Linked DNA regions of Homo sapiens: region 2 is linked to region 1. Evidence: fine-mapped expression QTL. A gene starts in region 1. The other region holds a variant in brackets. All regions are shown on one strand. Distances are between the middles of the regions. Region 1 holds the start of RUBCNL (rubicon like autophagy enhancer). Region 2 overlaps RUBCNL (rubicon like autophagy enhancer).

What was found.
Region 2: its variant is fine-mapped to the expression of RUBCNL in whole blood (TOPMed, PIP above 0.99).

The regions. Positions count from the first base shown.
Region 1 is chr13:46,385,135-46,390,509 of GRCh38, forward strand. RUBCNL (rubicon like autophagy enhancer) reads right to left here and starts at 2,118. Exons shown (of 15, transcript NM_025113.5): 1 at 2,000-2,118. RefSeq lists enhancers at 1,885-1,974, 2,355-2,634, 2,665-2,764, 2,785-2,894, 4,658-4,797 and 1 more.
Region 2 is chr13:46,349,694-46,355,068 of GRCh38, forward strand. RUBCNL (rubicon like autophagy enhancer) reads right to left here. Exons shown (of 15, transcript NM_025113.5): 11 at 420-658. Among named protein-coding and RNA genes, the nearest start is that of RUBCNL, 35 kb to the right of the region's middle. The variant C/T (reference allele first, on the strand shown) is at 3,100.

The DNA of each region.
Region 1 (5,375 bases):
AATTGTAGCACGTGTATCAGTCTGGTACACAATGTCCTATGAAGGTTAGCTTTATTATCACCATCATTATTATTGCAGAAAGACTTTCAGTTCAGAATAAGACAGCACAGTTACAGAGACCTGGTTTTATTTTCCAGCTTCTTAACTGAGTCATCTTTCAGCTCCTTTTAATTAAAAAGAAAAAACAATCAGAGATCTAATTGGGTATCAGGAAGATACACAATATGACTAACAGGCACTAATATTACTACACTTATAGTCTCTGGAAGGCTGGACATACTTATCCAAGAACTGCCTAAATTTTTACAATGACACACCATGCTAAATCTTCCATATTAGAAATTCCATATTTCTCTCCATACTAGAAATAATCGTTCCATATTAGAAATAAGAACGTAGATTTGGTAACAAGGGAAACTATTCAAATTTGCCAGTGCTATTATTTGTGTGCCTTCAGATGGGTGGGGAAAAAATGTGTCAGCAAGCAATGCAGCCTTTCTTTAGTTTTTTACTTATCCTCTAAAGATCATGCAAAAAAAAAAAAAAACCAACAAACGTTTACTCTTGGATGTTTAACCTTGGCTCCGACAGAATGTTCCTTGTATCAAAAAACAAGAACTCAGCCAACAATGTTTTTGTTGTTAAACGGTTGCATGAAGACTATGTCCAGTCAAATCTAACCCCTCACCCCGCTCCAAGGCTATGACCCTCAATTTTCATCAAAGTTCCTACCATCTCCCACTTTGTAAAGGCCCTAAAGAAGTTAATGAAGAAGGCAAAGTTCCTGTCCTCTGCTGTCACTCAGTAATGAGCAGTTTCATGTGGCAGTGCAGAAACTGGGGTTTGAGAAACAGAGGTGTCCTGACACTCTGGACCGGTAATCACGAAAACCCCAGCACTGCCATAAAGATGCTGTCTTAACTCGGCTCCAAACAAAGTTCTGTCGGCGGCCGGCAGTGTTTCAGTGGGCAGCAATGTGGTGATACCTTCACAGGATACTTTATAGGCTTCAAAACACTTCCCTCCCTCCAGGCCATTAACCTTCTAAACCACACAGTGGGGTATGGCTGGAGTATTCTCCCCCTGAGGCAAGGGAACTGAAGTTCAAGAAGGTTTCTTGACTTGCCAAGATCTCCCCGCTACTTTGGCTTTAAGAAACTGGGTCTAAGAAACTCAAGCTTACGGATTCTCTGTTCTCTGCGCGCTCCCACCACATCTTCAATTCAAAGATCCTTCCAAATTCCACAGAAATAACCCAGTAAGGGCAGCTCTTGAGTATACCTTTTCCTTTGAGTCTTAATTTTCACTCAAGGCGAAATAACCCCTCCTCTGAAAGTTCTCCACGTTTTCCAAGCGGACAGCATCAAGTTCGCAGGGGATCTGTATCAGTCTCAGCAGGTGGACTTCACAAGGGGCGGGTTGGGGGAACGCCCGCCTGACCGTGTCCGGCGTGGCGGGGGGTTGGGGGCGAGAAGAGTGGGGGTTGCTATGTAGGGCGCCCGGACCAAATAACACGCCGCGATTTCACACTCCAGCCTAGCTCAGTTATGTAGCCAAATGTTTTTCTGTCACCACATATCCACGACTTTGGCTGTGTTGAGGACGAAAACAGAGAAAAGACACTGATCCCAGAACACTGCGCCTGGGAGGACGCAGGGCGCAGGCTTTGTAGTCTCTGAGAATCGCCCTGCGTAAAAGTGTCCTGAGGTCCCGCTTCTGCGCCCTTCCCGGCCCAAGCCGAACACAGGGTCAACCTCACTCTACAAAGTCAACCGGATAGAAATCCGCCACCCCGCGAGGAGCCCCTTCCTACTGTCTCCAAGGGGTCCCCGACACTGCTCTGAGCGACCCTAAGATACCTGGGTGTCTCTGCTGGGCACAAACCTCTCTGGCGCCACTTCCACCATCCAACCTCTCCCGCGGCCCTCCCTTCCCTTTCTCCAACCACCCTCTCCACCCCGCGCCGCTCCCATCTCGCCCCCGGCCCCGCCAGCCTCACCCAGCCAAACCCGAGCGGTGGAACGCTGCGCTGGGTAAACGCCGCGCGTCGGGTCCTCCCTCGCGCGGCTCCGGGCAGCGTTCCGTGGCCACCGCGCTCCCGGTAACAGCAGAAAGGGGAGGGAGGAGAGCTACCGAGGAGGGGACAGCGACGCCCCGACGCCGCCACGCCCCCCGCCTCCCACACGGGGGCCACCGTAGCTCTCTAGAAGCTCCTCAGGGAAGCAAAGCGCCGTTCCCGCCGCAGGCACCGAGACGTCGCCCAGATGGAAGAAACTCTGGAGATGCGCGCTCCTACACCGGTGCCGCGGCGCCCGGGCCCAGCACCACGCACCTATGCGCGCCTCTGCCGGTCCTCCTAGAAATCCCGCCCTGCCTACCCGCGGCGCGAGACGCAACGACGCTTTCAGGGGTCAAAGACCTGGCAGAAATGACTTCCCAACCCCAGATGCCCCCAGCAGCAGTATTTAGCAGTCATACAATTGCCTGAAATGAAGAATGAGTAATCTGGATGAGTCGGCCCTGAAATCGACCTGCAACTTACCCGGAACGTGAGCTGTCTCTCTCTGACCTCTGCTGGCTGCTTCACCTGGAGTCTGAGTCCGACTCATGTAGCACTTCACTGTCCGCGTTAGTTTAGCCTTCACTGTCAGCAACTCGTCACCTTGTCCTCTTGCAGCGAAGGTTTGGAATCCCATCACGGGTGTGCAGTGGTTAGTCCTGAGATCATGGTGGTGCTAGGAGAACCTGCCAACCAATACAGAAAGTTGTCACGAATAGAAACCTAAGCTCTGGCCGGGTGCGGTGGTTCAAGCCTGTGATCCCAGCACCTACTTTGGGAGGCCAAGTCGGATGGATCACTTGAGGTTAGGAGTTCGAGACCAGCCTGGCCAACATGGTGAAAGCCTGTCTCTACTAAAAATATAAAAATTAGCCGAGCGTGGTGGCGGGTGCCTGTTATGCCGGCTACTAGGGAGGCTGAAGCAGGAGCAACCCGGGAGGCGGAGGTTGCAGTAAGCCGAGATCGCGCCATTGCACTCCAGCCTGGGCGACAGAGCAAGACTGTCAAAAAAAAAAAAAAAAAAAAACAGAAAGGAGAAGAAGGGAAGGAGGGAGGGAGGGAGGAAGGCAGGCAGGCAGGCAGGAAGGAACCCAAGGGAGGGAGGGAGGGAAGAAGGAAGGAAGGAAGGAAGGAACCTAAGCCAAGGAAGGAAGGAAGGAAGGAAAGCAAAGAAAGGAAGGAAGGAAGGGCGAAGGAAGGAAGGAATCTAAGCCAAGGAAGGAAGGAACCTAAGCCCAGGAAGGAAGGAAAGAAGGAAGGAAGGAAGGTAGAAGGAAGGAAGGAACCAAAGCCAAGGAAGGAAGGAAGGAAAGAAAAGTAGAAAGGAAGGAAGGAAGGAAGGAACCTAAGTCCCAGAAGGAAGGGAGGGAGGGATGGAGGAAGGAAGGAAGCTAAGCTCTCTCTCGCGGTGCCCTGACTTCTCCCGGGGAAGGACCTCTGAGCTGCCTGCACTGGTAATGACACGTAGGTGAACCGGTCCTGGCTTTCTTAGAAGATTCCCTGCTGCATAAAACCAAATCCCGTTGCACTTTCCTGGGTTCCTTGGCTTTGTCCTTTGTCATTTCCAGGATGGAGCAGAGGCACTGGTAATTTGGCTTTTACTTGCCTGGTACCTCTGGCATGGAGTGGCTAAACGGTGGCACCATGTACTAGTTGCTGCCATCTTCAGATAAAATATTGAATCAATATGACAAAAGTCAGATGAATACTAGCTGCCAATTACCCTGCTTCCCTTGGGGGCAGCCTGTTTGGAGCATAGACCAGCTTTGACCTGCAAGAACTCTGGATATTTGGAATATTTAAAATTCCAAATACAGTATCCCAGGAATTCAGGTCAGCTGAAGGCCGATTGGGAAGGGCTTACCTTAAATGAATCAGAAAGAAAAAGGTGTGGGTGTGTGCTAACATTTTTTGAGTATCGGCTATGTGCCAGGTACTTTTTCTTATTATTTTAAGCAAGTCTGTGAACATCCCTGAGAATAACAAATCATTTGTTCCCATTTCGCAAGGGGGAAATCTATGACTTAGGTTCAAATAACTTGCCCAAGGTCACAGAGCTAATAGGTAGCACAGTTAGGCTTTGAAGGCAGGTGTATCTGACACCAAACCCTATGTCCAATTTCCACCATACTACCAGCAAGATGGAAGAATAATGAAATAAAGGGACCAGGCAAGAGCCAGTTTCAGGAATACTTAAAGGGAAAGAGGAGTCAGGAGGAACTTAGAGAAAGAATCTTGAAACAAGAGGAAATGTCATGCCAGGTAAATCAGTGAGTCAAAAACCAGAAACAGCTGTACTAGTTGGCAGACTGGACATAGTCCAAGGCAAGAAAATCGTTTTTGTAGGGAGATTAGGATATTTTGGACCAAGATTGTGGGCTTTAGTCATCCCCTCTGAAGCCACTCTGAAATCACCTTTCTCAAAACTGCCATAAGGCAGGCCTAGGCACTATCACGTGGACATCCTACTAACTCTGAGTATAGACCTTCTACATCTCGTCACAGACGCAGGAGGTTCACATTCTGAAAGAGCATCTCTAGGACTAAGGAGAAACATTCAAGGACAGGTTTTTCAAGTTAGGAATGCTCACTGGAAATCTGCTCTGTCCCCTCTGGGATCTGGAAGTAGAATTTCCCAAGCACTAAATGCTGAGGCGTGGACTTTCCAAGAATTTCCTGATTGGTTAATTCTGAGAATGTCACTGATCATTACAGACGGATCACCATGCAGGAAAAGGAGAGGCTGGTTTGGGTTTTTTCATGGGGAAGGTGAACTTCCAGATCACAGTGCCCTCCAAGACACAGGGCTTGAAAGTCATGAGTGTCAGGGACAACTCACTGTGTCAGCTAGCCCAGCCGGGCTCATGCCCAGCACCCATTGATCACACACAAAGCTCCATTGTGGCCAGGATAGCCTCATAAAAGACCGAAAGCCTAGCAGCTGCCTGCCAAAACCCAGCCAGGCTTCACAAGAAGTGATTTGTGCTGTGAGCAGAGCTTTGACCCCAGTTTTGAACTCAGCTGACAGTCAGCAAAGGGGAAACCAGTCTCTGTACAAAACAGGAAGGAAATGAGATGAAATGAACTGCATTATAAGCTACCAGAGGGTGCCTAATGGCATCTTCACCACATAGAAGTCCCAGGAAGAAAGACTGATGATTTTGCATGGGAGAGAAGCCCAGACAAGCACCAGGGAAGGAAAGAACCGAGGAAAGCTGCATTTGGCTTGGCTGTTTCTCTTCCTCCTTGCCTGACTTAACAGCCACTGTCTGCAAAAGGACACATCTGTGTGAACCCACTTGCATGAGGAGCCTAG
Region 2 (5,375 bases), 35 kb before region 1:
TGAGACAGGGTCTTGCTCTGTCACCCAGGCTGGAGTGCAGTAGTGCAATCTCGGCTTGCTGCAACCTCCACCTCCCGGGTTCAAGCGATTCTCCTGCCTCAGCCTCTCGAGTAGCTGGGATTACAGGCGTGTGCTACTATACCTGACTAATTTTTTTTTTTTTAATTTCTAGTAGAGATGGGATTTCACCATGTTGGCCAGGCTAGTCTCGAACTCCTGACCTCAGGCAATCCGCCCACCTTGGCCTCTCAAAGTGCTGGGATTACAGGTGTGAGCCCCTGCGCCCAGCCGCTTCACTCGCTTTATGATCCATTTGCCTCTTAGAGGATGTATCTGTGGGTTCCCCAAGCTAGTGTGATGTGCATTTCCTGCCACAGGACACTTCCAATGAGAGGGATGGGGTTGGGGCTGCGGCTCACCTTCACTCTGTCCAGCTCCTTGGCTTTCGCATACAGGCTTTGGCCGATGCTCAGCAAATTGAAAATGGGCTGGTGCCATATGCTGTCGAGCAGCTGTTTGGAGAAATTGCTGACGTAGTACTTCTTGAAGTCCCACATCATCAGGATTCGGGCAGGGATGCACGACTCTGCATATGAGTGGCAGCAGTCACAGAAATACTTCCCTAGGTATTCGCAGTACCGGAGCCGCTTCACAAACTCTGCCAAGCATACCGGAGGGTGAGTGCCACACCTGGTGCTGAAAACCTATCCTGGTATACCCCGACTTCCAATTCCTACGCAAGATTCAAAGACTCTGATGACTTGTTTCATGATGATAAAGCCATACTCAACCTCATGACAGCTGGGAAGGCTCCAGCAGAGACTTGGGGAATTAAATCATGGCCATTCATGAGCTCTGCTCTTGTGGAACAGACGTCAGAAAAACAAAACCTTCCCAAAATACTCCTGGATTTGGAAGATGGAAATTGCAAACTGCAGTGTAGCAAAAGGAACATTCATTTTAGGATCTGGAAATCTGGGTGGGAGTCCAGACTCCTCTCACTAGCAGGAAGACTGAAGGCAGGTTAGGCTAACTATTCTGAGACCACAAAATGCAACTCAGAACTGGATCGAGTGTTATTACACATAGGAAAAGTGCTTTATAAATTGTGAAGCAGTATATATACAATGTTAGGAAGCAGCATCATAAAGACCTTGATAAATCAATGAGAAAAAAATACAAAAATGCACAAAGGATGGGAATAGGTAATTCACGGAAAGAAGAAATGCAGATAACTAACAGAGAAAAACAATCTCAGAAACAAAAAAATGCATATTTTAAAAGTGAGGCTGAGCACAGTGGCTTGTACCAGTAATCCTAGCACTTTGGGAGGCCAAGATGGGAGGACTGCTTGAGCCCAGGAGTTCAAGACCAGCGTGGGCAACATAGTGGGACCCCATCTCCACAGAAAAAAAAAAAAAATTAGCCAGGCAATGTGGTGTGTGCCTGTGGTCCTAGCTACTTGGGAGGCTAAGGCAGGAGGATTGCTTGAAGGTGGAGGCTACAGTGAGCCATCATCATGTCACTGCATTCCATCCAGCCTGGGCAACAGAGCGAGACCCTGTCACAAATTGATGACAAATAATAAAATTAAATTGAAATGAAATGAAAGAAAAGAAAAGTGAGATACTCTGTTTTGACTCAGCCTGTCATAAATTTAGAAGACCCAGAACTGGTGCAGTATCTAGAGGAGGGCACTTACGTCTAGCACTGATAGAACTAATTTGTAGGAAGACATTTTTGTGATAGACTTCAATTCTCACATGTGTAACAGTAATCCTGCTTCTGTTACTCCATCAGACAGAAGTGCTAACAGGCACACATAGTGATATAAAAAGGTGTTCATTACAGCACATTTATAATGGGGGTGGCAGCCAAAATGTCCATCAAAAGGCAATTGGTTAAATAAGTATGGTGCACTCAACATGAAATGCTGTACAGCCCATAAAGTACACGGAAGAGCATAGGAAGTGGACATCCAGTTACAAATAGGTATAATGTGATCTCAATTTTATTTAAGAACATATATATAAACATACACATAAACATATATTCACTGTCTAAATCCCCACCAAAAAGCCAACAGTGACTATTTCTGGAGGGTAGGAGAAAGAAGGAATTTTTGCTCTTTACACTTTTTTTTTTTTTTTTTTGAGAAGGAGTCTCGCTCTGTTGCCCAGGCTGGAGTGCAGTGGCATGATCTCAGTTCAGTGCAACCTCTCCCTCCTGGGTTCAAGTGATTCTCCTGCCTCAGCCTCCCCGGTAGTTGGGACTACAGGGCGTGCCACCATGCCCGGCTAATTTTTGTATTTTTAGTAGAGATGGGGTTTCACTATGTTGGCCAGGCTGGTCTCAAACTCCTGACCTCAAGTGATCCACTCATGTTGGCCTCCCAAAGTGTTGGGATTACAGGCGTGAGCCACCACGCCCACTGCACTTTCTAACCTACTAAAATAAACACTCATTGACCACTTTTGGAAATGTGTCTAATAAAATACATTAACAAACAAAAGGTATAAAAACTAATGCAACAAATACCTGTGCACTCACCACCCAGCTTCAGAAAGAAAACAATTCAGTTGAAGTCTTCTATGTGCCCCTCCCTCAACACTAGGTTCTGACATGAACCAAGTTTGATATTTATCATTCATAGTTTGAGTCATGTACGTCTTTGTAACTAAAATACCATACAGCATAACAGAAATCTTAGTTGCCATATACTGGGAGGATTAATGAAATCATGGATGGGAAAGCAGCTGCTGTAGAACCCGTACACTGTAGATTCTGAAGATCATTTCCAAATAATGGCTTTAAAAATAAACAAGGCCTGGCCGGGTGCGGTGGCTCACACCTGTAATCGCAGCACTTTGGGAGGCCGAGGTGGGCAGATCACCTGAGGTTGGGAATTTGAGACCAGCCTGACCAACACGGAGAAACCCCATCTCCACTAAAAATACAAAATTAGATTGGAGTGGCGGTGCATGCTTGTAATCCCTGCTACTTGGGAGGCTGAGGCAGGAGAATTGCTTGAACCCGGGAGGCAGAGGTTGCAGTGAGCCAAGATTGCGCCATTGCGCTCCAGCCTGGGTGGGCAACAAG[C/T]GTGAAACTCCATCTCAAAAAAATAAAAATAAAAAATAAACAAGGCCTGGCTGGGAGCGACCACAGAAATGAATCTTGCTGAGTACTTACTCTGTGCCACAGATCAGTTAAATGTTTTACATTTACTATGTCATTCTGTGCTCGAAAGTCTGTGAGAGAGGGACAGTTATTTCCCCTATTTCACTGATGAAAGCACAAGACACTGAAGTTAGGCAACACGCAGGGCCACACGAACAGTATGTAGGCAGGCAGGATTCCAACCCAAGCCTGGACTGCGAAAGCTCCAGCCCACAGCCATCATGTCCCACTCCTCCTCCGCTGCATTCGATGGTGGGAAAGGGAGAGGGAGCTAACGCCTTTGCACTTGCCCAAATTGTCCCTCAGACCCAGGTCACACTCTGAGTTGATGTTTAAAAGCAAACAAATAAAGAGTTGTTTTTTGTTATTCATGATAGTTATGTTCTCTAGAGTCGCCATGAACACTGAATTAGTCAATACTGAACCACTGCTCCTGGGGGAAATTCAGGGTTAGGCACCTGTGAGCTTCTGGTAGCAACAGTTTCATCTACTCCTCAACACACACTCAATATCCATTCACTCATTCATCAAACTTCATTGAATACATGCTGTTATACTATCAATACAGAATACACTAATGTCCATCTTTTTTAATTTCCTAAGTCCTTTAACTAAAACAGAATACAAAGTGACCTAAACCAGTGGTTCTTGGCCAAGGGTGATTTTGCCTCCCAAGGGGCATTTGCAAATGTCTGGCGCCATTTTCAGTGGCCACTGGGAGCTGCTTCTGGCACCTACTGATGCTGCTAAACATCCTACAGTGCACAGGACCCCCCACGACAAAGTCCATGGTACTGAAGTTGAGAAATCCTGCTCCAAAACACAATTGTCCTCATTTTATGAAAAGTCAGCATCAGGGGGTTGGGTGGAAGAGAAATATTCTAGAACAGAGATGTCCGGTATAACTTTCCATGGGGATAAAAGTGTTCTATATCTGTGCTGTCCAATACAGTAGCCATGAGTTACATGTGGCTATTGAGTACTTGAAATGTAGTTAGTGTGACTGAGGAACTGAATTCTTAATTTCAATTAATTTAATTTTAAATAGCCAGGTGGACTAGTGCTACCATACTGCATAGTGCAGTTCTAGAATAAAGCTAACTAAAGAGAATCAATAACTAAATGCAATGTATGAAATTTGATTGCAACCTTGATGGAAAAAATAGCCATAAATGATACCTTAAGAACAAAAAGGACTAGGAAGTAGACAATATAGAGAATTGTTTTTAATTTTTTTGGTGTGATAACTTGTTTCTTATCCTTATTTTTGGGATATACTGAACTAGTAAAGGGTAAAATGTCATGTTCAGTGTGTGGAAATTGAAGGAGACTAAGGAAAACATGACAACTAAATTCTGAAACAGATAAAGGATGTTACTGAAAACCTGGTGAAATCTGAATAAAGCCTGGGGTTTCATTAATAGGACTGTACCCCATGCTAATTTCTCAGGTTGAAACTATGATTATGTAAGATGTTAGCAGTAGAGGAAGCTGGGTGAAGGGTGTACAGGAACTCTCTCTACTCTTTTTGCAACTCTTCTGTAAATCTAAAATTATCTCAAAGACAAAAGTTAAAAAAAATGTATCCTAGAAGCTAGAGGAATTTAACAGGAAAAGCCCAAAATTATTTCTATGCTGTCTACAATCTGGGCCCCGCCTACATCTGCAGCATGTTTTCTCCTCCTATTCTTACTCTCTGGCCACACAGGGTTTCTTTTACTTGCCACAGGCCCTTTGCACATGACGAACACCCCTACTTCTGTGGGCAATCACTTTCCGATGAAACCTCTTACTCCCAGCTTCTCAAGCTCAGATGAAGTTCCCTTGCTGTAAATCCCACGGCACTCTTGACTCTTTTGTTACGTACATCACTTTGTGTTACATACACTTACTTGGCTGATGAGTGTATCTTCCCTAAAAGATGATAAGCAAGCTCCCTGAGGGCAAGGCCACTGTACAAAAGTGCAGACACACATCTCCATACCTGAACAAGCTTAGGGAAATAACAAAAAGTTGGTGGAGCGATAGTCATATGTGTACAGTTTCTGACTCATGCATTCAATATTTACAGAAGCGCCAGGATACAGTGGTTAACCAAAGAGACATGTTCCCCACTAGATGTGCTGGGAAAATGACTCATTCAAAGAAAATCAGCAACAATGGTGATGCCCGTCAGGCATTATCATCCAGTGTAGGAG